Regions from separate parts of the Homo sapiens genome. Here regions 1, 3, 4, 5 and 6 are each linked to region 2. The links come from fine-mapping of genetic effects on gene expression. A gene starts in region 2. Each other region holds a variant in brackets. All regions are shown on one strand. Distances are from middle to middle. Region 1 holds the start of LOC101927623 (a long non-coding RNA gene). Region 2 holds the start of GOLM1 (golgi membrane protein 1). Region 3 has its middle 21 kb from the start of NAA35. Region 4 has its middle 39 kb from the start of NAA35. Region 5 overlaps GOLM1 (golgi membrane protein 1). Region 6 overlaps GOLM1 (golgi membrane protein 1).

Evidence for each region.
Region 1: its variant is fine-mapped to the expression of GOLM1 in whole blood (TOPMed, PIP 0.91).
Region 3: its variant is fine-mapped to the expression of GOLM1 in whole blood (INTERVAL, PIP above 0.99).
Region 4: its variant is fine-mapped to the expression of GOLM1 in gastroesophageal junction (GTEx, PIP 0.98).
Region 5: its variant is fine-mapped to the expression of GOLM1 in whole blood (TOPMed, PIP above 0.99).
Region 6: its variant is fine-mapped to the expression of GOLM1 in whole blood (TOPMed, PIP above 0.99).

What each region holds. Positions count from the first base shown.
Region 1 is chr9:86,125,052-86,130,123 of GRCh38, forward strand. LOC101927623 (a long non-coding RNA gene) reads left to right here and starts at 2,489. Exons shown (of 5, transcript NR_110996.1): 1 at 2,489-4,030; 2 at 4,179-4,277. The variant T/C (reference allele first, on the strand shown) is at 2,497.
Region 2 is chr9:86,097,490-86,102,562 of GRCh38, forward strand. GOLM1 (golgi membrane protein 1) reads right to left here and starts at 2,069. Exons shown (of 10, transcript NM_016548.4): 1 at 1,922-2,069. RefSeq lists an enhancer at 1,510-2,010 and silencers at 1,641-1,690, 1,851-1,950, 1,961-2,280.
Region 3 is chr9:85,917,583-85,922,655 of GRCh38, forward strand. No RefSeq gene overlaps it. Among named protein-coding and RNA genes, the nearest start is that of NAA35, 21 kb to the right of the region's middle. The variant C/CT (reference allele first, on the strand shown) is at 2,881.
Region 4 is chr9:85,899,820-85,904,892 of GRCh38, forward strand. It overlaps the pseudogene PHB1P7. Among named protein-coding and RNA genes, the nearest start is that of NAA35, 39 kb to the right of the region's middle. The variant G/A (reference allele first, on the strand shown) is at 2,779.
Region 5 is chr9:86,061,989-86,067,061 of GRCh38, forward strand. The region is part of intron 3 of GOLM1 (golgi membrane protein 1); the gene reads right to left. Among named protein-coding and RNA genes, the nearest start is that of GOLM1, 35 kb to the right of the region's middle. RefSeq lists enhancers at 696-1,612, 2,845-3,345, 3,346-4,346. The variant G/A (reference allele first, on the strand shown) is at 3,052.
Region 6 is chr9:86,075,092-86,080,164 of GRCh38, forward strand. GOLM1 (golgi membrane protein 1) reads right to left here. Exons shown (of 10, transcript NM_016548.4): 2 at 4,101-4,250; 3 at 2,321-2,500. The coding sequence starts at 4,229. Among named protein-coding and RNA genes, the nearest start is that of GOLM1, 22 kb to the right of the region's middle. RefSeq lists an enhancer at 3,792-4,991. The variant A/G (reference allele first, on the strand shown) is at 2,801.

The DNA.
Region 1 (5,072 bases), 28 kb after region 2:
GAGAGCTTCTTTCCAGGGCAATCAGGCAAGAAAAATAAATAAAAGACATCTAGACTGGAAAAGAACAAGTAAAGCAATCTTTCTTTACACACATGAGCATTTGTCAGATCCTTCTATCGGAAAATTGGATTGGATTTTCCATTAGAAATTGCATCAGAAAACCTGATTGCCTCTGCAAAGGAATTACTAGAACTAGGAATTTGGCATTTTCTTAAACAGTTAAACATGTACCTACAGGAATTCCTAGCCATGCCAAGCCTAGATATTTAACCAAAAGAAAAGAAAAAATAAATCCATACAAAAATATGTATACAGATGTTTATAGCAGCTTTATTTGTAATAGCCCAAAACAGAAAACCACCCAAATGCTCATCAATGGGCAAATGTATATTACAAAACTGTGATATATCCGTATAATAAAATATTACTCAACATTAAAAAGAAAGGAACTATTGATACACACAACATGGATGAATCTCAAAATAATTATTGTGTGATAAGCCAGACAAAAAAGAGCAAATATCGTATAATTCCATTTATATAAATTCTAGGCTGGGCATGGTGGCTCATGCCTGTAATCCCAGTACTTTTCGGGGCATAAGCTGGTGGATCACCTAAGGTCGGGAGTTTGAGACCAGCCTGGCCAACATTAGTGAAACCCCGTCTCTACTAAAAACACAAAAATTATCCGGGCATGGTGCCACGTGCTTGTAATCCCAGCTACTCAGGAGGCTGAGGCAGGAGAATCGCTCGAACCCAGGAGGCAGAGGTTGCAGTGAGCTGAGATCGCACTACTGAACTCCTGCCTGGGTGACAAAGTGAGACTCCATCTCAAAAAAAAAAAAAATTCTAGAAAACACCAACTAATCTGTATTGAAAGAAAGCATATCAGTGTTGGAGCGTTGGCTAGGGAATGAGGAATGGGTGGGGAAGATCAAGAGGGAGGCATTGCCAAGGGGTCCAAGAAAACTTTGAGGGGGATGAAGATGTGTACTTTTTGAGATGATAGTTTTGCTGGTGTATACATCTATCAAACTATATACTTTAAATATGTGCAGCTTATTGTCTGTCAGTTACACCCCCAACAAAGTTGCTTTTTTTAAAAAAAAGGCGGTGGGGGGGTCGGGTGCGGTGGCTCAGGCCTGTAATCCCAGCACTCTGGGAGGCGGGGGCGGGTGGATCACCTGAGGTCAGGAGTTCGAGACCAGCCTGACCAATATGGTGAAACCCTGTCACTACTAAAACTACAAAAATTAGCTGAACATAGTGGCATGCGCCTATAGTCCCAGCTACTCGGGAGGCTGAGACAGGAGAATTGGTTGAACTTGGGAGGCGGAGATTGCAGTGAGCCGAGATCGCACCACTGCACTCCAGCCTGGGCAACAGAGTGAGATTCAGTCTCAAAACAAAACAAACAAACAAACAAACAATCTGTTGCCAGTTTCCTAGGAATGCTCTGGGCTTATTCTCTGCATTTTCCCACCCTGCCTCTCCCCTCCTCCCCCTCTCCTCTCCACAAAAGGGAACACATCACACAGGCTGTACTGCTCCTTACTTTGTCAGTCTCTGGTGTGTTTTAGGCTTATTCCATATCAGCACACAGGCTTTGCCTCATTCTTTTTGGTGGCTGTGTAGTTCTGACCTCAGTGCTCTAAAGCCATGCATTTAAGTGATTTGTCCTCTGCTTGTTCAGCTCTGAAATTTGTCATTACGCAGGCTTAACCCTGTATCAGTTAGGAGCCGCTTTTCTATTCCACCCTCTTATTGTTAATATGTGAGTCCAAGAGATTATGAGTTAATTGAGGGCAGGGACTCACATATCCACATCTCTATCTTCCACCAAAAAATAATGTTCTGCTCTGCAAATAGCAAATACAAAAAGCACAGCACAAAGTTCGCATCCAGCAGGCTTCATCCCAGCAGAATAAGCGAGAGGGACTCAGCACCAGTCAGTCCCATTTTGGTTAGTGAGAAGGTGGTGCCTTAGGGAAGAACACTGCATACTTCGAAGGCTGCTCTAGGGTCTGTAATCACAGCCCTCTGTGTTTGGGTTCATTCACACGGTGTTTATCTTCTGGGATTTGCTCCACAACACCCTTCAGGAAGGGTTTTGAAGGTTGTGGAAAAATCAGTGTGTGCAGCCAACAAAAGGGCAACAAGCCAATTGTGGTTATACAGGGCTGTTTTAAGAGTCAAGTCATGTTTGGGATGGGGGTGGGGTGCACAGTCTTGTATCAAGCATTTTCTGTAGCAGAGCTCAATCAGCATCTACAAGGCAGGGCTGGGCCACTCCTGCCTCTGAGCCTGTCTTCAGTAGTGGGTGCCTTTGTAACGAGCCAGCCTGTCCCCGGACCCAGGCAGAGTGACAAAACAGCTACACATTCATGAAGAACACTGGCTGTCTCCATAACAACCACGGTTAACATGACTCTGTAGAACTATGGGCGTGGCCCTTGGGTCTCCTGGCCTGGCTACCAACATGCCTGTGGCTTCTCA[T/C]TGGGCCCCGTGAGTGCTGGCAGGGCTGTGAAGCAGGTGTGACTAATGGGTCAGCTCCCCGCTGGGACTGTGACCCTGAAGCTAACAAACCTAAGGGCAAGGCCAGGCGCAGCAGCTTTCTGAGTCTCTTCTGAAGTGGCTTGAAGTCGATACTGTGTGTGTATGTAAGATCTAGCCTGAAGGAAGGCGCTTTGTTCAGTTGCTAACTTATTTTCTTGGTGGTAAGCTTTAGATATCACTTAGCTTTTATGTTTGCTTGTTTTGTTACAGATTAAGTAGCTGTCATAAGAAAAAGGACTATTTACTTACTATCTGGAGTCTTGTTCTGTTTGATACCCCTAGGCACATGTTCAATTCAGAGATAAGAGCCCTGGAAGTTATAGATTGCAAACAGTTTTTTCCCTGAAAACAAAACTGACATATTTATATACAATGATAAATACATAGATAGACTAATGATCAGTTTATGGATATTTGGCAATATGCCTCTCAATAATCATCACATTATTCATAATGTTTATAAATTCATAAATATAAGCGCACATTACAGCAACTTATTAACAATGTTCTATAAGCCAGAAAAGCACCATGAATACAAAATAAATTATTATAGTTCCTGAACAGTACTTTTACCTGCTAAATATTTTGTGGCCTTCAACAGCTCAGCCAGACAGTCAAAAGGAGAGCAACTTAGCAGAAGATTTTGGTCTAGCTGAGGATTCAGATCACTGAAGAACTTAAGTTTAGGCTGTTAAACAAAATTATGGGAGCCCGTTATTTTGGACTGAACTCCTGTACTAGGCCCCAACAGACGAGACCAAACCAAAATGGAGTCATTCATGCTAAATGCCTCGTCATCAAATAGAAGCTTTAAGGAAGCAGATAGATCCAACATAGACTAGTTTTTCTTGAGAACAGAAGATTCCAGTCTACCTGTGTCAGTGCAATAAGGAAGTCCTCTCTGCTTTAATTTTTACACAAAAAGTAACCTCATGTTAGCCAATCCGACTTTAAAATTTTTTTTTTCCTATTTCCTTGTTCTCACCTTACAAAACCCACTGTTCTGCTGCTGTCCAGCAGGAACCCTCATGCTGTTTTGTAGAATGGAAGCTGCCCTGATTCATGAATTGCAAATAAAAGCCAATTAGATCTATAACTATATTTGTTGGAATTTTGTCTTTTGACAAGACCAACTGGACCTTCCCTTTCTTGGTTAAAATCTGCAAGACTCTTCTTCCTTGGTCACACTGGACAATTGGCTTGTTAGAGCTGCAGTCAGGGGAACCTGGGAGAGACTCACCTTGCGAAGAAGACAAAGGCCACGGTGCTAATGGTGGTGGTGCAGGTATCCTGAGATGGCCAGAGCTCAGAGAAGTTCATGTCAAGAGGTGACAAGCCACAGTGAATTTACGGAATTTTTGTTTCTATGTTTATGGAAATTTATGTGTGCACTCATGCCGTGTTATGGACTGAATTGTGTCCTCCCAAAATGCATATGTTGAAACCCTAACGTCTAAAGTGACAGTATTTTGAGGTAGGGCCTCTGAGGAAGTAATTAAGGTTAAAGAGGTTATAAGAGTGGGGCCCTAGTGATGAGATTTGTGCCCCTGTAAGAAGAGACACCAGCCCTCACTATCTCTCCCTGTCCCTCTCTCTTTCTGTCTGTCTTTCTGCCATGTAAGGACACACAAAGAAGGCAGCCACCTGCAAGCCAGGAAGAGAGCCCTCACCAGGGACCAAAATGGCCAGTGCCTTGATTTTGGACTTCAGCCTCCAGGAGAGTAAGAAATAAATTTCTGTTTCTTAAGCCACCTAATCTGTGATATTTTGTTATGGCCATTTGAACTGACTCAGACAGCCAGGATCACTTATTTAGTTGTTCATTAATTTATTGATCCATTCAAGAAATTCAACAACTCTCTATTGAGTGCTTTATGTACCAGGCACTGTTTTTGGAGGTCAGGATGCATCAGTGACAGAAGACAAAAAGATTCCTACATTGTAAGCTTACCTGTAGGGACAGTAAACAATCAACATTAGAAGTAACTAAATCTGTGGTGATGATACTATACATTTTGTGATGTACCTTAACAGTACATAAATGTCTTTTACACCCATTATTGCATCTGACCTGGCAGACCCCGGGAGGTATGAGGAAATGAAGCCCACTCTCCAGGTCACATGGCTGGTACCAATTATAGTAGTAGCTAATAAGTATTTAGCTGCTTATTATGTGCTAGGAGCTGTTCTATGTGTGTGTTAACTCATTGAATCCTAGCAACAATTCTAGAAGTTGTTTTCTACAATAAAGGCACAGAGAAGTAATTTGTTCAAGGTCAGCTGGGTGCAGTGGCTCACACCTGTAATCCCAGCACTTTGGGAGGCTGAGGCGGGTGGATCATGAGGTCAGGAGTTCAAGACCAGCCTGGCCAAGATGGTGAAACCCCATCTTTACTAAAAATACAAAAATTATCCAGGCGTGGTGGCAGATGCCTGTAATCACAGCTACTTGGGAGGCTGAGGCAGGGAATTGCTTGAATCCGGGAGGTGGAGGTTGCAGTGAGCTGAGATTGTGC
Region 2 (5,073 bases):
CAATAATGCTGCAGAATTTAAGCCAAAGGCACAGAACACCGCTCCCCCGCCCCCAATGGCCACCCCAGGTCCTTTGAGAAAGGCGGCTGGACCTCAGGGACCACGCTGCCTTCAAGCTCCCTCCCACCAATAGTGCCCATCAACTGACACCTGTCTTCTTCTCAGCACACCTGCCTAAAGTGATGCTCCACCCTTCCTACTGATCCACGCAGACGCATTTTCCCCAGGTTCTGCCCTCTGTACTTCCAATGCAGAAAGCCAGCTCGCACTTTCACAGGATAAGGGTAGCAGTTCCCTCCTTCCTGGGGAAGGTGGCCATATATATATAAACCCGGGTAGCCCTGGGCCTGCTATGGTCAGCTGTCCTAACTGTTGTTTCTGCCCAGCCCTCAACAACAACAACAACAGCGGGTGGAATGTAAATGCAAAATCTTTTCATTTCCCATCAATAACTGGACCTAAACCAGCCATTAGAAAGCAGATGGTATCCCTGGCCCTTAATATCCAAGTCACCACAATTTCCTGGCCCCACCCTCAGCACTACTTTCCTCTCATTTCTTTCGTTTTCCTGTAAAACCAACTTTAAAAAAAAATGTGAAAATTGGATAACCTCTCCATAGGAGAACAAAATGTATCTTAAAAGCTAACCTCTTTTCTTTAACCATCCTAACAATTCAATTTTTGTTCACTGACACCTTAAGAATTGAGTGTCTGGCCTAAAAACAGTAAGTCTTAGCAAGTTACTAGTTTCTATTAAGAAAGAAAGTAATGAGCTTAGCTTCATCTTTTATAACACAACTGGAAGAAGCTAGGATGCCTTTGGAGACCCACAAAAACTGACAAGAGATTGTCCCATGCCCTCCAAAATTCAGAAATACTAAAACTGAGATTTGAGCCAACCTGATGGCCATGAGCTAAACAAAGCCACTCAAGCGCTGCTAAATACTTCATCAGGTTATTGTGTATCTCACTAATCCAGCCCTAGAAATGTTCCTCAATAATGTGCATAATGTAGGGCCTAGGGACCCCAAATCAGACAAAGAAAACCTCAAAATCGTGAAAGTCACACAAGTTTAGTTTTGCAAATCTGGCTATGGGACATCTGAAATTGTCCAGCATCATCATGGTATTTCAAATATAATAATTCTTAAATTTTGCTAAAAAATTTCATCAAAATTGTTATTCTTCACATTTTGTTTCTTAAAAGCAAATCATTAAAAATATTAAATGGGATATGATTTTTACAGCAGGGCAAAGTTGTGTGGATCCTCCACGTTGGCAAAGGTGGAAACACAGGTATGCGAGAAAACCCCGAGCATCCACGAGAACGGGATGCAGCCGCGCTCTGGACGCGCGGCGGGAGGACCCGGAGCCCAAGCTCCGGGGTCACCAGCCACGAGGCCCAGCGGCAACGTGGACCCCAGGGCGGCCGGAGCGCGCCTGGGGCTGGAGGGGAGGAAGAGGCGGCGGGAGCCGAGAGACTCGCGGCTCGGCCAGCCTCCCGCGCCTGGTGCAAATCACGCTGCAGAACTGGAACTAGTGCGACTTAGGGGGTGCACGCTTTTGACTTTGGATGCCGACGCGCGTGACAAAGCTCAGAACAAAAAGACAGGCCCCGCATCGCCTGAGACTGCAGGGCAGGGAATCCTCGCGAGGCCCCTCATCGCAGGGCAAGGGGGCCGCGCGCCCGGTCTTGGGGAGCGAGCCGAGGGGCCCAGGCAGCCGCGGGCTACTCGGTGCAGGAAGGTGCGGAGCCAGCCCCGAGCGCAGCCAGCGAAGGTTGCAGCCCCGGCGCAAGCCGCGGGGAGGCTCCGGGGACCGACGCGAGGTCTCGGCGCGCGGGGTACGGGCCCTGGGCAAAGGAGGGAGGAAGCGATGGACCGCGGTTCGGGCAGCCTGGGGCCGCGCGCCGCCCACTCACCTCTTTTCGAGGCTCCGGCCGCCACTCGGGGATCCGGGGCCCCGCTACGAGGCCGCCCGGGTCGCTCTCCCGCCGCCGCCGGCCTCGAGCTCCGGCCGGCTCCGCGCCGTGCGCCCAGCGCCTCCGCGTCCAGCGCCGCCGCGTCTCCGGCCTCCGCAGCGGCAAGGCCCCGCCCCCGAGCAGCGCCGGCGGCGCGAAGGGAGGAGGCGGCGCCGCGAGCGCGGAGAAGCGAGGCAGGGGCTGCCGGGGCCGCGCGGACTCCCGGCCCCACGGTGCGCGCGCCCCGGCCGGTGGCCGCCCCTCGGCGGGAGCAGGAACGCCAGCGTGCGCCCAGTTCTCGCCGCTGGGCGTTGCCCCTTCCCCCGGGCCACCCCATCGCCCCTTCCGACGCGGGAGCTGGCGCCTGAGCAGCGACGCGGAGCGGGGAAGCGGCTGTGGGGAAAGGGTACCTGGGGGGAGCCCCCATCCCACGTTCCGCCCCGAGGGAATGTTCCCGAACAGCCAACCGCACCCAGCGCCACACTCACGTTACCTTCTTTATAAAAGTCGTCGGGTCAAAACTGCCCAGAGAAGGAAGCGAACGAAAAACAGGTTTTTAGGGGGCTTATACTCACAAAATTGTCTTTTTTCTCCCACGAGGCATTCCCTGTTGACCATCATCTCGCCTCGGTTGTCACCGCTCAGGCCTTAGTGTTTGGTCTGTGACCCTTCCACTGCTAGCAACGGAAAAAGTGAAGATTCCCGGACGCCTTCGGGTGTGATCTTATAGCCCGGGCAGCTGCATTTGAAACAGCGCCTCAGATGACGCTCAGGCGCACTGATGTTTGAGAAGCCCTATGAGGCCGTACCTCCCGGAGAGAATGCCACAAAACTAGTGACCTACAGGGAAACCATGCTAGAAAATTCTAAAGCAATGGTTCTTAACTCTGGCAGCACCTGCCATCCATTAGAATTATTTGGGGAGCTTTTAGAGCATTTAGGAACCAGGGTCCCACTTCCAGAGTTCAAAGTGAACTTGATATTTTTTGTTTGTTTTGAGCTTCCCAGATAATCCTAATACAGTATACGGCCAAGATTGAGAACAGTTTTCCTAGAATCATGTCTTCATGTCTTCCTAGCTCTGGTGTCTGGGAAAGGAAACTCCTTCCTCTGCGCCTCTCTCAAATCACAATAAAAAAACAAGTAAATACATGAACACCTAAAGGAATGCTCACAGCTGAAATTGATTTTAACCAGAACAAAGAGTCACCTTAAAAAAGGTGATCAAGATACCCTATTGCTACCTGAGCATGGAGCTTCTTAACTGCAGGAAACGTATCTTTACCAGCTAAAACCTCTTAGCTGAATTAGAAGCTGACCATACATGACCCCTTTAGAGGAATGTTCTACTATATTCCAAAATGATATTTTTGTTATCTGCAACTGTTAAACTGTTGTAGGGTCAGACCAAAGCATTCAGAAGCTGAGGCTGTATCAGATGTCAGCCCTGGTTTTGCAGACTTAAGTTGTGTCACTTTGATCTTCTAGTGAGCTTAAATAACCATAATCGGGGACAGGTACAGGAAATTCCCTTTCTTGCCCATTTTAGCTCTCTTAGTATAGTTTACATTCTTAGACTGGTGGACTGTAACTTCTATATCATTTGGCTCTAAGGAGGGTCTCCATTAGTCTCTCATTTATCAGCAACTAATTAGCGACTCACTCAGTGATTCTTAAACACTTTATGGAACAGGTCCATATGTCTAGGTGCTAAGGCAGCTGGCTGAATGAGCTATATTTTAATTGAAGATGAATTAGTCCTTTTCGTTAGATTCTTTATGACAAAAGTTGAAAATTTTAAGATGCAGTTTTATATATATCTATATACATAATTTACATTCCTTATAAAAAAGCTAATCAGTTGCTGGCCCTGAAAATTCAATTGGATGGGTTTTGATTAAACAATGTGCAAGGGGCTACAGTGGTTGGTTGAAGGAAGCATCCATGTTTTGCCTGTTAAGCATCCTTTCCTTAATGTCTTAGTCCATTTTGTGTTGCTATAACACAATTCCACAGACTCAGTAATTTATAAAGAAAAGAAATGTATTTCTCATAGTTCTGAAGGCTAGGAAGTCTAATATCAAGGTGCTGGCATCTTGCAAGGGCCTTCTTGCTGCATCAGCCTGTGGTGGAAGGCAGAAGGGCAAGAGGGTGTATGTGAAATTGAACTTGCAGCCTCAAACCCTCTATAATTGGCATTAATTTATTTATAAGAGTGGAGCCTTTATGACCTAAACACCTCCCTTTGGGCCCCACCTCCCAACACTGTTGCACTGGAGATTCAGTTTTCAACACGTGCTTTATGGAGCACACATTCAAACCATAGCATTCTGCTTCTATGCCCCCCACCACCCCCAGTTCATATCCTTCTCACATACAAAATACATTTATTCCATCCCAACAGCCCTAAAGGCTTTAATATTTATTTATTTATTTATTTATTTTGAGACAGGGTTTCACTCTGTCCCCCCGGCAGAAGTGCAGTGGTGTGATCATGGCTCACTACAGCCTCAACCTCCTGGGCTCAGGTGATTCTCCCACCTCAGCCTCCTGAGTAACTGGGACTACAGGTGTATGCCATCATGCTCAGCTAATTTTTTTGGTATTTTTTGTAGAGATGAGGTTTTGACATGTGGCCCAGGCTGGTCTCAAACTCCTGGGCTCAAGCAATCCACCTGCCTCAGCCTTCGAGAGTGGTGGGACTACAGTCATGAGCCACTGCACCTGGCAGCCCTAAGGTCTTCACTCTAGCACCAACTAGAAAGTCCAGAGTCTCATCTAAATCAGATATGAGCAAGATTCAAGGCACAATTCATCCTAAGACAAATTCCTCCAGCAATGAGCCTGTGAAATTAAAACAAATTATTTACTTCCAAAATACAATGGTGGCACAGGCACAGTATAGGTATTCACATTCCCAAAGGGAGAAATATGTAAGATAAAGGGGTAACTGGTCCCAAGTAAGTCCAAAACCCAACAGGGAAAAAATAACATTAAATCCCAAAGCCTCAGAATAGCCTTTCTTGACTATATCTCACCTTCTAAGCATACTAGGGTGGGAGTTGGACCCCCAAGGTCTTGGGCTGCCCCATCTGTATAACTTGGCTGGGTGT
Region 3 (5,073 bases), 180 kb before region 2:
ATGTGGGACCTTGTCAGTGTCCAGTTAGAGGTGACATGGACTCTAGGTGTCCACTAAGATTCTTTAGATATTCTTGTGTGATCTTAAAAATTGCAGTTTAAACTGGACTTACGTGTTGTGTGGATACTGCAGATTGCCTGATTCAACAGCTCGATCACTCTACTCCCTGAGTGCTTTCCATATGGAAGCTGGAAGCGAGGCTGTCTTTTATTCATTCCCAACAATTGCTGGTCACCCCTAACAACGCTGCAATGAACATCCTTGTACATATCCCCTTTGGGACCCGTGTGCATGTTCCTCTGGGTGTACTCAATATGGATTGTTTGGTCGTAGTAGACATAGTACACATATACAAATAAGTACTCTCAGGCTACTCTCCAAAATGGGTGTGGCTGTATGACGCTCCCTGCAGAGTAGGAGGGTTCCATTTTCCTACATTCGCACCAATATTTAGCATTATCTGATATTCTAAGTTTTTCTGATCTGATGGGTGTAAAACTTAGAATATCAGATAATGCAAAATATTCGTGAAATATTTAGGGAAACTAGAAAAACTTGATTCAAAGAATGTAATCAGAAAACACCTTTCTTTCTTTCTTTCTTTCTGTCTTTCTTTCTTTCTTTCTTTCTTTCTTTCTTTCTTTCTTTCTTTCTTTCTTTCTTTCCTTCCTTCCTTCCTTCCTTCCTCCCTCTCCCCTCTCTCTCTCTTCCTTCTTTCCTTCTCTTTCTTTCTCTAATTCTTTCTTGACTTCTGCTCCCTTTAAATTTATTTAGTGGGAAAGTACCTTCTGTTCCAACTTGAAAATGTACGCATTCCCATGACATTTCTCTTACTTTCAGGAAATAAAAATATCTTGGTGACATTGAACAAAAACACAGTCTTATTTCAGTAACTAAAAGTACACTATGTTAAGTTATTATAAAATCTTTGCATTTAAATTAAGTTAAAATCTTTCTCCTTCCCTTGATGGAACCTTCTACAGGCAGGAACCAGGGGAGGGACTGTGATGTTTCTTTTCTCTATGCTCACCTTCCACTCCATCTATGTTGCTAAGTATGATTTCCTCTAAGAATGGGGAGGCAGAGGAGGTAAAAAGCGTTAGGAACATGATGACTGGTATTGTAAGATGGTGTTCTCTGGACCTAATAAGTGTTTAGAGCTGATAATGTTTGGGGTGGGAGTATTCAGAGGATTCTGTTGGGAATGCTCAATGGTGTTTTCCTGATAGGGGAACTGGAGTTTCCTCTGACTTGCTGCTCCCCTCTTAGCCCCTAGTCCTTTGACTGACTCTACTCGGGAGGCACTCACAGACTTTTTCTGTTAAGATCCTGTGGCTCCCCCAGGCAGCCCTTCTTGGGACTTAAAAGGCACCAGATTAGCTCTTTCTCCTTAGTGGTCATTTTGCAAAGGTAGCATGAATACATGCACTCCATCAATGCCACATGGTACAAATATAAAATAACATTTATTGGGAGAAATGGATAAGCAGAAATGTGCATAGTTGACAGTTCCTACTGTCATGAGTCCTCCAGGAATGATGCTTGGACTGATTGTGGGTGGGCTGGACTCAGTGGGGCCATGGTCCCATAATGAAGAGCTCTACTTCCACCTACATTCCATATTCGTAGGAAAATAGAGACAAGGATCATCTACGTGCCTTTGTAGTGATGGACAACCTCTGATTGCAAACAGGCTTTATTAGAAAGAAGCAACTTCTGAGATCAGTTTTCATGTTTTAGCCTGTTTTCCTATTGAGTGAACTCAGATCTGGTGAGCCAGCTCTTTACCAGGCTACTGAAAGGACACAGGGAATCAGCCTCCAGGGCTGCCCTGAGCAGTCGGCATAGGCATCCATTGCCCTGACCAACTGGAAGTACAGGCCCATCCCAAAGCAGCTAACTTCTTGCTTTCCAGCACTGGAGTAGTTAGTGAGTCTACCTCTGCCTTCACAATTTTCCAGTGGTCAGATACCAGTCCACTGTGTCTCCCTGGCTAGTAGAATGAATATAAAACTCTCTAAGTAGTACTGCTGAAGCCTCTCTCTCTTAACTAAGGTGAAGGGGCAGATATTCTCTCTCTCTCCATTCTAGGAATGAGAGTCAAAGAACAACTGTTTCCAAAGAAACCTTCCTAACAAATTCTCTTTTGACTCTTTTATAGCCTCAATATGAGGGTGATTTTGAACACCTACTTAGAAATTTTTGAATAGTGGAATAATGAATTCTTTGAAATAAAATCTTTGTTTTTTCTTCATAGAAACTGAGCATGGGATATTTATAAAGACTTTGACAGTTGGTTCTCAACTTTGGCTGGATATGAGAATCACTGGAGAAGCCTATGCCTTGCCTGCATCCTGAGCAGTTAAATCAGAGTCTCTGGAGGTGGGCTCTCTAGGTGATTCTAATCTACAGTCAAGGTTGAGAACCACTGCTTATGTAGAAACAAAGGCTTTGAAAGCAGAAACAATTACATTGGGTGATTAAACGTAATTTCCAGGCCGGGCGCGGTGGCTCACGCCTATAATCCCAGCACTTTGGGAGGCCGAAGCAGGTGGATCACAAGGTCAGGAGATCAAGACCATCCTGGCTAACACGGTGAAACCTTGCTCTACTAAAAATATAAAAAATTAGCCGGGTGTGGTGGCACGTGCCTGTAGTCCCAGGTACTCAGGAGGCTGAGGCAGGAGAATCACTTGAACCCAGGAGGTGGAGGTTGCAGTGAGCCGAGATCGCACCACTGCACTTCAGCCTGGGTGACAGAGCGAGACTCCGTCTCAAAAAAAAACCAAAAAACACACACACGCACACACACACAAAACATAATTTCTGCCAGTTTCGCCTCTTGATTATGGATCTATTCAGTTCATGTGGTGTATGCCT[C/CT]TTTTTTTTTTTTTAACGATATCAAGTCTTACTCTGTCACCCAGGCTGGAGTTTCAGGGTGCGATCACGGCTCACTGCAGCCTCAACCTCCTGGGCTCAAGCGATGCTCCCATCTCAGTTTCACAAGTAGTCGGGACTACATATTTGTGCCACCATGCCCCAAATAATTTTTGTATTTTTTGTAGAGACAGGGTTTTGCCATGTTGCCCAGACTGGTCTCGAACTCCTGTGCTCAAGCAATCTGCTTGCCTCGACCTCCCAAAGTGCTGAGATTATAGGTGTGAGCCACTTTGCCTGATCTTGTGCATGGCTTTTAAAAGCAGGCAACCCAGTGCCATTCCAATTTGCATTTGGTGCTCAGGAATAGGCTGCAGTTAGCAGTGTTTCCAGGAGTTGTCCAGAATACATATTTTACTTTCTTTTTGTGTTTTTCTGTTTTCTTTTGTCTGCTAAGTTTTGTGGCTGAATTTTCGAGTTGTGCTTTCCACCTCTTTCTTTGGGGGAACTCTTTATACCTCTGTCTGACACAGTACATTTTGTCCCCTTATCCACTTGCTGTTGTGGACATCAGTGAGTGCACCCACAGCCTCAGGTAGGTGACTATTTATTTATTTATATTATTATTATTGTTTTTTGAGACAGGGTCTTGCTCTGTTGCCCAGGCTGGAGTGTAGTGGCACAATCTCAGCTCACTGCAACCTCCACTTCCCAGGTTCAAGCGATTCTCATGGCTCAGCCTCACAAGTAACTGGGATTACAGGCACCTGCCACTATGCCTGGCTAATTTTTGTATTTTTAGTAGAGACAGGGTTTTGCCATGTTAGCCAGGCTGGTCTCGAACTCCTGACCTCAAGTGATCCGCCCACCCTGGCCTGCCAATGTGCTAGGATTACAGGCATGAGCCACTGCGCCTGGCCAAGGGATTCTTTAAAATTCCACCAGCAGCTATAATCTCTCGCTTCCCCTTTCCCATACAATCAGCTCCAAGTGCTAAGATTTAGGCATCTATTATGTGCCAGACATTGTTAAAATAAATTCTTTATATTTCAAGCTTTCTATATATGATCTTATTTCATCTTTCCAATTATGCTAAAAAATGGGTGCTATTATTATCTTCCCCATATTATTACCTTTCCCTAAATGGAAGAAACTGAAATTCTTTCCATTTCAGTCACACCTCAAAATAAGGAAAGAGACTCCGTGGTTCCTGGTTATAAATGACAGAAACTGACCCTTGCTGATGTAAGAAGGGAGCACATTTATTAAAAATGTCTTGGGTTTGGATGTAAATGTCTTCTTGGTGTCAAAATTCTATTGATTTTATAGCTCATCTTTATCCTATTTGAGTTTTCTAATAAATTTAAAGTTGACAAAAGACAGAAATTCTTTACATTTTTGCTTCTACAAGACTATGAACCTGTTAAAAACCAATTATGTCCCTTTTTTCTAAGTAGCTAATGTAGGGTCTTGAATATGTTGTGTACTGATTAAATGTGTGACTCGTTGAGGTATAGGTGGATTCTGCCTTCTAGCATAGGGCTGAGGTGTGGTCTGAAGCAAGCCATTGCCTAGCAGCTTGTTAGAAGTGTAAAGTCATGGGCCTCACCCTGGACCTGCTGAATCAGGATCTGGGGAAGAAGGAGCAGGACATATTAACAAGCCATTCAGGTGATTCTGATGCACTCTTGGGTTTGAAAAGCTCTGCTTTCATGGCTCCTAGTCCAGTAGACCCATGGAAAAATTAATTTATAAACAAATATTCACTATTTAATCTAAAAGCCATAGTAATAAGTAATGCCTCTTTACTAAAATGTAAGAGGTATGAGTTCACCTTAAAACTGTGATGTCTTTCTCATCTTCTCCTGCCCTAAGCTACTTCATTCCTTCCTTTTTCATTTGTGTGCTGTTCAGAAATCAAGGTAGAAGTCAAGTGATGTTTGCTGTTTTGTGTGACACACCAAGTCACACCCGATCCACACTGATCAGGATAGGAAATTGTTTCTTCCATCTAGTGACTTGAAAGAGAAGGGAGCATCAGTTTGAGTGAATGTGTGTCAGCCTAGAGAGATAGATAGAGCATCTATCTCTCTGTATCTATCTATCTATCATCTATCTGTCTGTCTGTCCGTCTGTCTATCTATCTACCTATCTATCTATTGATCGAACTCACTCATTACCATGAAGATGGCACCA
Region 4 (5,073 bases), 200 kb before region 2:
TTGCTCGGGCTGGAGTGCAGTGGCGCAATCTCGGCTCACTGCAAGCTCTGCCTCCCGGATTCAAGAGATTCTCCTGCCTCAGCCTCCTGAGTAGCTGGGACTACAGGCCCACGCCACCACGCCCAGCTAATTTTTTGTATTTTTAGGAGAGACGGGGTTTCACCATCTTGGCCAGGCTGGTCTTGAACTCCTGACCTCATGATCCACCCGCCTCAGCCTCCGAAAGTGCTGGAATTACAGGCGTGAGCCAACACACCCGGCCGTCCCGATGATTCTTAACACGGCCTTCCTTCTGCCCCTACATCAGAAATCACTGTGAAATTTCATAATTGGCTTAAACTGAAGGAAATAAAGGTAAAATCACTTCAGATCTCTAATTAGTCTAAAACAAAAATGTCAGCCAGAGGAAAAAAAGACAGATCATCTTAAAAGGAACAACAACTGAAATGATAGCTTACTTCTCAGTAGAAGCAATGGAAGCCAGAAGACAATAACATGGCATTTTCAATGTCCTGAAGGAAAATAACTGCCATAGTGACTTAGCAAGCATCTATAAATAGTGAAAATACTCTTTAGAAATGACGTAGAAATAAGGATTTCAAGAAAAAAATAGAGTGAGAATTCATCCCCAGCAAGCCCATACTACAAGTATTAAAAGGTGTTCAGCTAAAAGGAAAATGAACCCACGCAGAAGGTCAGAAATAGAGGAAGAAAGACGAAGCAATAAAATAATAATTATGCTAGGGTCTTCGTTCATTTGTGCTGGTATAACAGAATATTTCCGACTGGGTAATTTATAAAGAACAGAAATTTATTTCCTCATGCTTGTGGAGGCTGAGAATTTCAAGATCAAGGGGCTGAGAGGCTTCTTGCTGCGCCCTCACATGGCAGAAGACGGAAGGGCAAGAGAGAGTGAACCTACTCCCACAAACCCATTAATCCATTCACCTACTTCTTCCCCAAAAGCCCCACCTCCCAATACTGTTGAATTGAGACTTGAGTTTTCAACACAAATTATCAGGGACACCTTAGAGCATAGCAACTAGTAACTCTAAATAAATAGTTAACTATATAAAACAAAAATAATGTATTGTGCAGTTTAAAATATTTATAGATACAAGACCACAACAGTATATAATTTGGGAGGGAGGTATATGGAGTTACAGGGCTTAAAAGCCTCCTACTGGAAAAGGGTAAAAATACCAGTTGACATTAGACTTTGTCAAGTCTAACGCTTGCTAAAAATCTGCATGCTATAGTCTCTAAGGCAACGACCAAAGGAAGAGTAAAAGCTGTATAATGTCCTAGCAAATAGAGATTAAAAGTAGAATTGTTAAAAATATCAATTATCGGCTGGGCATAGTGGTTCACACCTGTAATCCCAGCACTTTGGGAGGCCGAGACAGGCAGATCACTTGAGGCCAGGAGTTCGAGACCAGCCTGGCCAACATGGTGAAATCCTGTCTCTACTAAAAATACAAAAATTAGCCTGGTATGATGGCAGGTGCCTGTAGTCCCAGCTGCTTCGGAGGCTGAGGCAGGAATCACTTGATCGCACCACCACACTCTAGCCTGGCCAGCAAAGCAAGACTCTGCCAAAAAATAAAAAATAAAGGAAAGAAAAGAAAAAAGATCAATATAAAAGAGACAAGAATGGAGAGAAAAAGGAGCATAGAACAGGCAGAACAAGTGTACATCACATAATAATTTGGTAGATTTAAAACCAAATATATCAATAGTTATAGCAAATGTAAAGCAACTAAATGCTACAATTAAAACACAAAGAATGAGAGGCTAGTTTTAAAAAATAAACCCCATGGAAAGAAAGTTTAGATTTCATCTCCTCCAAGTTATCTATAAAACAAAATATCTATAGCCCCTCAGATTTGGTTTGAATTTATAAACCATAGCAATCTCACTTATCACCAGATCCTAATTCAGAAAATTTTGTTTAGATAGGGTCTCACTATGTTGCCCAGGCTAGACTCAAATTCCTGGGCTCAATCAATCCTCTCACCTCAGCCTCCCAAGAAGTTGACTACAGGCATATGCCACTGCACCTGGCTTCAGGTAATTCTTTTCTTTTCTTTTTTTTTCAGGTAATTCTCTTCTTTTCCTTTGTCTTCAAATGTTAAAGAATCCCTTCATTATTGAGCCAAAAAAATTGTCTTAGACCTACTTTATTGAGACATAGACAATATCTCTCTCTCATTTCATATGACAGTCCATCAGATATAGGAATATGGATACCAATTTTTCTATTTATATATCCCTAGTTTAAAAAAATAATTTTTACATAATCTTCACCATATTTTTATATCATTTATGAAAACAGCTCCTTGTACAGTTGGCTCATTGATCCAGCTTGTTAAGTTATTTTCAGACTTTGCTTCAGTAAGCCATCATATTGTCACTTTCTTCCATTTCGTATCATAGGGAAATGATACAAAAAGCATGCTTTCTATATTTTCATCTTATTCATTGATAAAAACGTTGAATAGAACATATCTGATGACTGTGCTTCAGAGCAGGCTTTGGAGAACTTTTTCTAAATTGACCGTGATCCATGAATCAACATTCTGCAGGTATGCAGTTTTAAACATTAATAAATTTGCCTGTGTAGCCAGTTCACATTTCTCCAACTTGTCCATGAAAGGCCTTGAGACGTCTTGAGTTGGCATAAGAGTCCTTGTTAGATGCCTTGCTTAAATTCAAATACCTGGCTGGGCACAGTGGCTCATGCCTGTAATCCCAGCACTTTGGGAGGCCAAGGTGGGC[G/A]GATCACCTGAGGTCGGGAGTTTGAGACCAGCCTGGCCAACATGGTGAAACCCTGTCTCCACAAAAAAATATTAAAAATTAGCCAGATGTGGTGTCATGTGCCTGTAATCCCAGCTACTCAGGAGGCTGAGGCAGGAAAATTGTTTGAACCTGGGAGGCGGAGGTTGCAGTGAGCCGAGATCGTGCCACTGCACTCCAGCCTGGGCGACAGAGTGAGACTCCATCTCAAAAATAAATAAATAAATTCAAATACCTTAGGTCTGCTTATCAAGCTAGATGTGATCTCAGAAGGGAGTGCACATCTCATTTCCATTTGTTTATGGGGACAGAGAGTCAACTATAAATAATATACAAGTCTGCAGACTTAGGTTAGAAAAAGTATGATAATCCAGTGCCTCATGCATCTATGGGCACTGAAGCTGCTAAACATCACTTTTTTTTTTTTTTAAGACAGATTCTAGCTCTGTCACCCAGGCTGGAGTGCAATGGCGCAGTCTTGGCTCACTACAACCTCTGCCTCCCAGGTTCAAGCAATTCTCCTGCCTCAGCCTCCCAAAGTAGCTGGGACTACAGGCACGTGCCACCACACCTGGCTAATTTTTGTATTTTTAGTAGAGACGGGGTTTCACTATGTTGGCCAGGCTGGTCTCAAACTCCTGACCTCGTGATCCTCCCGCCTTGGCCTCCCAAAGTGCTAGGATTATAGGCATGAGCCACTGCGCCTGGCCTAGACATGAATTTTTAAAGAAAATGCCACAATGGAACACACTGGACCTTTGAACCCCTGGAGAAACTCAATGGGTTCCAAAGCATGAATAAGTAAAACTGGTAATAGCCTTTAGAAACTCCAGGGGCCATAGTCAAGGTAGACTGTACTCGAAAAGTTACAAACTGGTTCATCTGAGGCTCAGAGGGCACTGGTCTCAGATAATTTAGATAAAGATGCTCCCTGAACCAGAACTCTGATGTCCTTCTTAGTAAATTGGAATCATGACAGTGGACTTCTTTCCTAGTGGAGCTGCATGAGTTAGGATACTTTCTGCTGTATGTAACAAAAACTGACTCAAACTGGCTTAGACAATAAAGAAGTTCATTATTTCAATAAATCAAACTCCAAGAGGCAGAGCAGGCTTCAGGCTTGGTGGATTCAGTAGCACAATTCTGCCATTGGCAACCCAGGAATATTTTTCATGATTCCAATTTGGGAGAGAAATAGGATTACTAAAATTGATTTAGACTGTTTTCTGGGGATGAATGGATGTTGGTGAGTCAACGACCAACAGAAGAGTTTTTGAATGTTGAATGTAGAATAGCACTCCTAGTTCTAAGCCAGGTTTTCTTTCCTGACTTTTAGGGTAGTGTCAACCCTAAGGGCGATAAGATTAAAGGCAAGGATATAAATTGGCCGACCTAAGAATACACCCAAAGGCATGTAGCTTTACCCCTAGGAACATACCTCTATACAGTCCTATGATCTTCTCCAACACAGTAGTAACACAGTTCTTGAATTCTAAACAGAGGCCTGGGATGCAGGTGGGGAAACCTTTGTTCCATGGATGCAATGTGTATAGAAACTTTTCTTTTCTTCTGGAAGTTTAAGGCAGAAAATCAAGATGGGAAAGACACCCAGGTACCTTTCCAGTTGGAAATCAGCCTAGACTAATTTTAACAAATGGTAAAACATAAACTGAATGATTTTATTGGCTGTTCAATAATGGATTTAGTGAAGAGAAGCTGGAACTAATGAATAAACTAAGGAATGGGATATTGTTTTCATTAACTTATGCTACCTCTACCTTTGATCAGGAAGGTATAAGAGCTAGCTATGTACTATAAGCTATAATATTTTTCTTTATTCCTTAATGATTGAAGTGTTTTTAAAAAGAGGAATTTTTTTTTTTTTTTTTTGGAGACAGGGTCTCACTCTGTCACCGCCAACTGGAGTGCAGTGGTGCTATCTCGGTTCACCGCAACTTCCGCCTCCCAGGCTCAAGAGATTCTCCCGCCTCAGCTGCCCGAGTAGCTGGGATTACAGGCACGTGCCACTACTGCCCAGCTAATTTTTGTATTTTTAGTAGAGATGTGGTTTCACCATGTTGGCCAGGCTGGTCTCGAACTCCTGACCTCAAGTGATCCACCCGCCTCAGCCTCCCAAAGTGCTGGGATTACAGGCATGAGCCACCGTGCCCGGCCAGGGGAATATTTTTGACAGCTCAATTTGTCATATATACTAAATTTACAATGCATGCTAAAAAGAGAAACTATTAACTACCAAACATGAAACTGATTTTTCCC
Region 5 (5,073 bases), 36 kb before region 2:
GGGCGTCGGGAGATTAAGTGTAACTTTCTACAAAGCTTCAGAAAACACCATCTATCCAGGAAAACACGTAGGACACACAGACACAGTTGCTACACGCCCAGAATAGCTCCTGCCAACACATCCCTGTGTTGTCACAGGGAAGGTAACATCCTCCCACCCCATCCACCTTGCAGCTTGGCGGGTGTGGGAAAGCACCTCGCTGGGAGAGTGCAGGATGCTCCCAGGACCCGCCCTGGGGTCACCCGGGTGCCCAGCTTGGCAGAACAAGGTCCATGAGGTGTGGTGGCCATCACAGACATAAGCACAGGGTTGATGGCGAGGGGGCCTGAACCCAAGACTGGCTCACACCCTCCCCCAGCATCTCCTGCACAGGGCACACTGCAGGTGCTTTGGGGAGGGAGGAGAGAGGATGGGGAGGAGGGGAAGGGGAGGAAGGAGAGAGCAAAGGATGGTGAGGAGAGGGAGAGAAAGGAGGACAGAGGGAAGGGAGGACGGGGGAGGAGGGAGGAAGAGGAGGAGGGAGAATGGAGGGAGAGGAGGAGGGAAGAAAAGAGGACAGAGTAGGATGGAGGAAAGGGATGGAAGGAAGAGGAGAGAGACAGGGTCTGGAGGGGAGGAGGGCAAGAGGAGGATGGAGGGAGGAAAAGGACAAAGGAAGGGAGAGGGGTGGAGGGACAGAAAGGAAGAGGAAGGATGGAGGGAGGGGAGGCAGGAGGAAGGAAAAAGGAGGAGAAGCAAACGGGGGGGGCTGCCCTTGCCTCTGAGAACCTGCTACACTGTCTCCTTTGGTAGCAGCCTGCCCCTGTGCCTCTAACCTACACGTGACTTGGGTCAAATAAAACTTCCAGGAGGATCCAAACCTGAAGGACAGTGGGAACCCCAGAATGCACTTTGAGGCTTCTCTAGCAGTGGACGAGCGCCTGTCTTCTTAGTCCCTGACCCTGGATCTTTCTGAAGGTCTCCTCATCACCCAGCTGCCAGGGAACCTGGCTGCCCCTGAAGCAGCTCACACTGGTCTGTCCCCTCTGCAGCACCACCCAAGCTGCCCCTCAGCTCTTCCCGCTGCTCTCACTCCTGAACACTTAAGGAGATGGCAGGGGAGGAGCTGCCGAACCAGAGGAGCACCCCACACACTGCCAACAGGGCTTGACCCAGGAGCGGGGGCTTGAAAAGCTCCAGCTCCGTTTTTAGAGGAAGAAGAATGCCGGATTACAACACAGCACCAGCAATCTGGATATTCGTTCCCTGGCTGTTCTTTAACCAGCCAGGAAATGCCCTGTGCAAGGGCTGGAGGCCTGGGGCTGCAGACTCCCAATCTCAATGGGCACCCCAGGGCTGAGCCACCTGAGGGCACTGGGGGTTTCCATTTTCAAACGGGAATCCTAGCAGCTTCCCTGCTCCCACCTGCGGAAGAGGAGACACTTTTGTACATTCTGACTTTCTGCAGACAGGTAAAAAGGCGTACACAGACCTTTGGGGATGAAAGAGAAACTAAAACTGAACCAAGTGTACAGGTTACAGCGTCACAGTCAAGGCACCTAACAGACCCTACTTACTGTTTGTTCTTAAACATGAATGACTGCAGATCCCTGCCAGAGACGGTAAGTGAAAAAACAGCTACCTCCTATTTTCTTTACGTATTTCCCATCAAACGCCTGTCTTGGGTTGGGTTAAGAATTACAGAAGGTAAACGGAGTCAATTCCAAGTCACTCAAGCAATTTTCTGTGTGAAGAGAGAACAAGACAAAAGCCAACCACAACAGCAAAACCCAAAGCCTCCGTTACGCCTTCTATGGCAATCAAACACGCCAACGCTCTTTCTAGTGCGTATGAAGCCAAGGCCAAGAGCGAGGACACCTGCAGGATTTGGTTCTGTCCCATTAGGAACAGAGATCAATGCACATGAAATCCATGCCTCGTCTGGTCAGCCGCTAACCATCGTGGGCAACCTCACATTGCACGACAATGCTTTCCATGTGGAACTTGTCCATGGCATGTTTAAAAATCAAACCACGTCCTGAATCAAATAGGCATCTGAGTCTTCTCCTGAGGTCCAGGACATCCCATGACAGGCTCAGGCCCCTCCCTGGAGGTGGGAGGTGAGGACCCAGCACTAGGACACCCACTGAGGCACAGTCTGCAGTGAAGGACATCTACCTGAATGGCATGTTTGCTGCTTCTCCTACAAATGTATTTTTAAGTGTGGGAAGCAAATTACTTGAGTTTAATTATAAACCTGTATTTGAAGGTTGAATCCAATTGACAAACTGGAGAATTTCCAATCTAAAAAGACTAGAAGTCTTCTGAGACAAACACTTTTATTTTCAGGGCAGCAAATTTTCAATGGATTTTACTGACCTGCTTCCATTCTGCTCAATTCACACTTTCCCGCACCTATCCCATCTGTCACGGGGCCTGTTGATCCCTCCTCTTGGCTGCCTCCCAAATCTGCTCACTTTGCAGAGCTCATCCTACTCCTGCCCAAATTCAGTGCAACATCACTTTTTACTCCAAGTATTTCAAGAGCTGCCTCACTGTGCTGCCTCCTCTCTGCCCTGCTCCCCACCCAGCCCTCTCCCCACATGGCCAGGGCCTGCCTTTTAAATCCCACATCTGACCACACTGCTCCATCACAGCTTAAACCCTATGACGGCTTCCCCGGTCTTGAACTCAAGTCCAAACTCCTTCAAACTCAAGTCCAAACTCCTGCACCCCAACATCACACTCTGCTCGGGCCCAGCCACTCGCAGTTCCCTAGGCACCCTTCCAGGTTAGACACTGTGGGGGACAGCGCTGCTGACTCCCATGGCCCTTGAGCCGCCTGCCTGGTGGGGGATGCAGCAGATCGGCTCCTCCACGTCGGTTCCACACGCCTTTTGCTGTGCTTTCCTGAACCACAAAGGCTCGGAAGCTAAAATGCACCTTCCAGAATCATTTCCAGTGGGATTCTGCCTCCAATCAGATGCACTTACTGGAGGCTAGAATGTGGAACAGAGTGAGGGTGTGGGAGGTGCAGAACAGAGAAAGTGGGGTGCCCCTGACTCTGGGCCT[G/A]CACTGCAGCAGAACCCCGCTGGTCTCACGCTCTACGCTGGGCACAGGGGCAGGTCCTGAGATAGTGCCTGAGAGCCACCCCACCTCAATGCAGGCCCTTCCCACAGCTTACAGTATCTATTTCCCTGTATCAAATCCTTCCTGCTTAAAATATCTGGGTGGTTTCTCTGTCTACACTGACCCCACTACACTCACTTCCTCATCTTTGTCCAGCACTCAATGGTAAATGTGCAATGAACACAGCCTCCCCACCACTGGGCACAGGCCAGGGCAGAACAGAACAAATACTGAACGGACTGACAGAACTGGACCCGGAAAATCGGTGAGAATAAAAACAGAAAAGCTGCTCTAGAACTCTGGATTCATCAATCACAGCGATTAAAGGTGATAAAAATCAAAGACACCACTTTTATCTGCACAAGATCGCTTTGGTTCCCCCAGAAGACAATCATTACATTCGCAGGTGCACAAGCAAAGCTGGCCCAGAGAGAAGACACCAGAACCCTCTGAGAATTGCATCTGGCCACAGGAGAATGCAGTCTGGTGGGGCCAGTGTGACGAGCAGACCTGGCAGCCCCCGGCAGCCCCACGCCGGCCACTCTCAGGTGCCGGGAGCCTTCCATGACCTCTCTGGCTCTCACTCTCTTCCCCTCTGTCTCAAGCGACAAGAATGACTGTCTCCTAAAGAAATGAAGTTAGAAATTAAATATGTTCATGTCGGGCTGGGTGCGGTGGCACACACCTGTAACCCCAGCACTTTGGGAGGCTGAGGAGGGTAGATCACGAGGTCAGAAGTTCAAGACCAGCCTGGCCAACATGGTGAAACCCCATCTCTACTAAAAATACAAAAATAAGCCAGGCGTGGTGGCACCTGCCTGTAATCCCAGCTACTCGGGAGGCTGAGGCAGGAGAATCATATGAACCCGGGAGGCGGAGGTTGCAGTGAGCCAAGATTACGCCACTGTACTCCAGCCTGGGTGACACAGTGAGACTCTGTCTCCAGAAAATAAATAAATATGTTCATGTTACAAAAGCACTCTGAAACTCTCAAGTAGGACCAATGACCAGACTTGTTAATTATTTTATTTTGAAGAGGCAAAATCTTTCAGCAAAAGTCACTCATAAACAAATGCTGTTGTATTTGAGGGAAGTGACCCCATCCCAGGCTCAGAAGACACTCAAGAACGCACTCCATGAACCAGCTCTTTACAAGAGAAAAGCACTGTAAACACCTCAGAGCCTCCTCGTACCCCAAGTTACTGTGCAAGAGGAGAAACCGGGCAGCTCCCTGAAACCACCTGGACATGGGTACAGGTCACACAGGCAAGCATGACAACAGTGAGGCTGAGCGCCCCCTGCACTTTCCCACTGCCTCTTTAAGCTTTTCTTCTTCTGGACACAAAACGATAAGCAAGTCACCAACACCTCTGTTCTTCCACTCAGCAATCTTTTTGTTTTAACTCAGTTGCTCCCCTTCAGGAAAGATACAAGAACTCTATTTTCATGACAAAGGAACTGTTGCTAAAACATTACCTTTGCACCTCTGCAATATTAATGCACATATTTTAACAAATAAGTAAAAAGTATAAATGTCAAAGTGGATGTGCAGCTGCGAGAAACCAGCCGAGCGAGAATGTTACAAGTGCAAATGCTGAAAATGAAGCTATTTGTGACTGAACTTTTGGCAAGCAAAAATGAACACAATAGCAGGAAGATGTGCCTTTCCCTTCACGAAGTGCTAGTAAGTAATTCAGGGTCTCCCAGACTCTTCCCCAAGCATTTCAGAGGGCAGGTGATGCCACCCCCAAGCCTTTGTGGCCACTACTGGCCACTGAACAGCAGTTAGCCAAGAGGGGACCCAGGATCTTTGGAAGTCTTCAGACCCAAATTATTATTATTACTATTATTATTATTATTTAGATGGAGTCTCGCTGTCACCCAGGCTAGAGTGCTTGGCATGGTCTCAGCTCACTGCAACCTCTGCCTCCCAGGTTCAAGTCATTCTCCTGCCTTAGCCTCCCA
Region 6 (5,073 bases), 22 kb before region 2:
TTCCACCAGGCAAGGACACCGCAAGAAGAAGGCATCCATGAACCTGGAAGTGGGCCCTCACCAGATGAATCTGCCCCGTCTTGATCTCTGACTTCCCAGCCTCCAGACCTGTGAGAATAAATACTTGTTGTTTATACGCTGCTCAGTTTATGATATTTTGTTATAGCAGCCTTAAACAGACTAAGACAAAGTCCATACAGAAAGAGATAACATTATCACCGCTGCTGCGGTGGCTTACGACTGCGCCCACCACTGCTGCTGTGATCATGGCCTCGACTGCCGTTGGTACAATTAGGTGTAATAATACCAACCACCAGCTGCTGAGCTTTCATTCTAGGTTGAGCACTGGGTTAAACGCTTTATAAATATTATCTCATTCAATCCTCACAGGCACCCTGTGAGATTCCTTTCTCATTTCCACTTGACAGTTGAGAAAACAGATCCAGAGAATTTAAGTGACTTGCCTAAAATCACACAGCTGAGGGAACTTTAAACCCGGGTCTGCCTGACTCACAAGTTCCATGCCTCCTACCACCAAACCACAGCTAAAATCCTCCTGCAGCTAAGGTTTGATGTGAGAACCCACCCTTGCTCACCAAAATGAAAAGACATTTATATCGCATATTCTAAAAGAGAAAAACTGTGGAAACAGATTCTCTTTTCAAATAACTACTTGATGCTCTTTTTTTTCTTTTTCTTTTTGAGAGATGAGGTTAAAGGGGATTTCAGGAGCACAAAAAGCATATCTCACCAGTAAGAAAAGGGAAGAAACATAAAGAAGCACTTTATTACAACAACATTATGCACAATTCCCAGAGAAGAAATATGAGCTTGCAAATATAGGAAAGTACTCTGCAAATTAAACAACAAAAAAAGTACTTCTTGAATTTTAAATCAGTTATGCGAGAAAAGTCTGAGTCCCTTCCTGGAAATAATTCATTTTCTGAGACAATTCAAGATAATGGAAGTTGAGCTACAACATTCTTCCAATAAATTAGCCACTCCAGAGAGAGAGGTACACGCATTATAAAAGCCAAATTTTTCAGGCCAGGTGCGGTGGCTCATGCCTGTAATCTCAGCACTTTGGGAGGCCAAGACGGGTACATCACCTGAGGTCAGGAGTTCGAGACCAACCTGACCAACATGGCGAAATCCCATCACTACTAAAAAATACAAAAAATTAGCTGGGCGTGGTGGCACATGCCTGTAGTCCCAGCTACTTGGGAGGCTGAGGCAGGAGAATTGCTTGAACCCGGGAAGCAGAGGTTGCAGTGAGCCAAGAGGGCGCCATTGCACTCCAGCCTGGACAACAAGAGGGAAACCCCATCTCAAAAAAAAAAAAAAAAAAAAAAAAAAAAAAAAAGCCAAATTTTTCTAGTTAATAATAGAGGCCAAAGTTTGATGCACTCTGGGACAGGAGATATTAGTAACTCACACAGTTACACAATTTAATAAAGAAAGTATAGTCATATATTCCTACATAAGAAAACCAGGCCGGGCACGGTGGCTCATGCCTGTAATCCTAGCACTCTGGGAGGCTGAGGCAGGTGGATCACGAGGTCAAGAGATCGAAACCATCCTGGCCAAAATGGTGAAAACCCCATCTCTACTAAAAATATAAAAATTAGCTGGGCGTGGTGGCAGGCACCTGTAATCGCAGCTACTCAGGAGGCTGAGGCAGGAGAATCGCTTGAACCCGGGAGGCAGAGTGAGCCAAGATTGCACCATTGCACTCCAGCCTGGGCGACAGAGCCAAACTCCATCTCAAAAAAAAAAAAAAAGACACATAAAGCTTAGATATTTTAATTAGCAGGAAGGCCCCTTTAAATCTACGCAGGATTTGTTGGTTTTTTTCCTAGCTTAAAAGCAAGGGTGCAGTCCCCTACTTTCTCTGTTAGTATTTAGTAGAGTCTGCCTCTCCTCTCCTCCATTAGATACTTGGAGGGCACAAATATTATTTTTCTCTGAGATATAAGCACCTGGCATAGGCCTGGCACAGAGTAGGTATTTAATACATGTTTGTGGAAAGTGGGAAGAAAAAACCCAATAGGAGAAAAAAAAAAGCCAATAGGAGGATGAATCTGAAATTGTTCTTCTGCATTTCTCCTGTTTATTACCACTGCAAAAGGCTTCACCGCAAGCCCAGCCAGGGACTTGGAGGGGAAAGGGAGAGAATGCCCAAAGCTTGATCAATAGGCTCTTTCCACATAATTACATAAATCTAAACCCAGCCGCTTGCTCATCCTCCCGCCAAGAAGAAACAGACAATGTAGACACCATCCCTTAGAAAAGAACTGAGAGGAAACAAAGCAGGCCTTGCCTTTTCGTCCTGGTACAGCTTGTTGACGCTCTCCAGCTGGAAGTTGTGGCTGGACTGGATTTTGTCAAGCTGCTCCCGCTGCTTCTCCAGCTCTCCCTGGAACTCGTTCTTCTTCAGCTCCACGGCGCCTCTCTCTGCAGCCGCCCTGCGGACCCTGCCTTCCAGCTCCATGATCCGTGTCTACAAGGAGACCGTGGCATTAGGGCTGATGCCAAGTTACCTGAGGAGCCTGGACCACCTGAGCGCCCTCCACAAAGACCACCTTGGGGCCCAGGGCCAGCACCAGTCTTATACACACAAGTGCCCAAGGCTGTGTTTTAAGTCAACTGGACAGAAGCTGGAGCGGTTTCTTCTGGAAAAAATGGTCTCTGTCAGTGTAAGTGAAGGAAGGCTCTGTGCACTCACACCACACTTCCCACTGGGTTTTTGTGAGGCTTAAATGTGCTAAGTGCACAGAATGCCTCATGCTTTACCTGGCAT[A/G]AGATGATGCTCAAATATTTAGTTCTTCTTCGCTGCTAACAAAGCACTTAACAACTCTTTAGCAGATACAATTTCTGAAAACAGATTCAGTTCTCCAACTCCAGACAAGCAGACCTCATCTGCCCAGAGAACAGGAACTCCCGTGGAAGCTGAGACACAGGGAGTACAAGCCCAGGAGGGTAAGTGTGAGAACAGGACAGAGCACAGACGTGCTGGGGTGCCACGGCTAAGCCCATGCAGGTTGGAATCCCTGCTCCACCTCAACCTCTTGGTGCCTCAGTCTGACCCCCTGTGAAATGAGGAAAGTCAAGTCCCAGCCTTGTAGGGTTTGTGCACAAAAGGAGATAATTTGTATAAAGTACTGTGAAAGAGAAATTATTCTGACATTCATTAAAATGGTAAGAAAGACTATTCAAAACGATTGCAATAGGAGAGGGAAATTGTGCTCAATGCCGAACACATCAAAGACAGCTAGGGATTTATAGCCAACGAGCACAGTGCGGGGAGTCAGTGGATGGAAATCGCCCCCAGAGTAGGGGGATTCTTGCTAAACTGGCCTAACAAGATTCTTGCTAAACACAGGCCAAGGACTTAGACAGCAAGGGTAGGGATGAGGAACTTGGTCAAGGATCAGGGGTAGAAGGATGGCTTAGCGGGATCCTTTGCTAGGACTGGGCTGGGCAGGCCAAAGACAGGCAGTGAGAGTTGGGAGGTGCCAAGATCAAGGCCTAGTCAAGAAGACGGCTCAGAAGGGCCCGACTCAAGTTCAATCAAGAGGAGCATCTTTGTCACTGCTCAGCACTGCACCTGACCCATGACTGCACCGGTAAATGAGGAAGTTAAAATTATTATTATCATTAAGTAATGAAGATAAAGATTGGTACCTTTAAAAACATATTTCTTACACCCATCATCCAAGCACACTTCCAATACTACTCTTCGATATCTTGGGCGCCGGAGGACCGCAAACAACGGACTATGGCCAGTGTATGTAAGCAAGCTGTCTTCCCAGAACCACCCCAGTAGCTCAAATGAATGCTGTTAACTCACAGGAAAGGCAGGGAGGGATACCACAACCGCAATCCTACACAACCACAGAGGGGACCTCTCCCACCCAAAGCTGCTTGGGGTCTGGCCCAGGGCTGTGGGGGTGTGCAGAGCCCTAAACTCACCTTACAAGCGTGTGCCCTGCACAAAACGCCCTGGCTGGCAATAAACAACAAACCCCTGGGACCCCATCATAACAAAATAAACAAAACATAAACATAAAATAAACATAACAATAAAGAAAACAAAACACCTGGAGGTCCACGCTCCGGGAGCTCGCAATCCAGTAGTTGAAGCCCAAGACGATGATGCAGGCCACCAGGGCGGCCAGCACGAGGGGCGGCGACTTCATGCTGCGACGCCCGTTTCCCAAGCCCATCATCTCAAAATCAGCGCTGAGAATCTGCCAAGTAAAAGCAAATAAATAAACATCAATACTAGTTTTATCATCTCCGAAGCAGACCGTATCATCCTTACAACCAAGAGGAAAGGAGTCTTGCCAAGAAGCGTGGGCTGGTAGCTTCTCCTTGACGTGCAAAGCTGTCAAGGGAGAAGAGTATGTGAACGGCACGCACAGAGCCCATGGTGCTGTGAACCCAGGGCAGTGTGGCCAGTTCCCAGGACAGGCTCGGAGGAGCAGGCACCGCCCCGAAACCTGCCACAGATTAGCTCGAGACCTGGGGCAAGACATGATTCCTCTTACACTTCAGATTCCTCCCTTGTAAAATCATTACCATACTCACCTTCCCGGCATAGTTTGAGAATTAATCATTTCTGTAAGCAGCAATGTTTGAGAAGTAATCATTTCTGTAAACACCAATAACAAATATTAAGTGCTTCCGCATCATATTAGAAAGAGTATATTCCTCATTACTCCTCAGAGAGAGCTTTTTGCTTTGATTCCTAACAAGGGAGGTTTTTTTTACCCTTGACAGGATTACTAATGACACCCAATTAAAGCATTTCTCAAGCAAAGCAGGAAACCCATTCTGGAGGTGAATGTGAACTCCCCCCCATGTACATCATTATTCAGGCACAGCCCTGGCTATAGAAGTGTCTCCTCCTTCATGACACACAACGGAAGTGGGAGGTGTGCCATCTGCCTGAAGTCACCAGGAAAAATGTGTTCCATCTTAGGATTTGAGGTGGAAACAAGGCATTCACTCCATGCCAAACGAGAGCACCTTCTTTCGAACATTCATTTCTCACTTTAGGGACCGTATCTG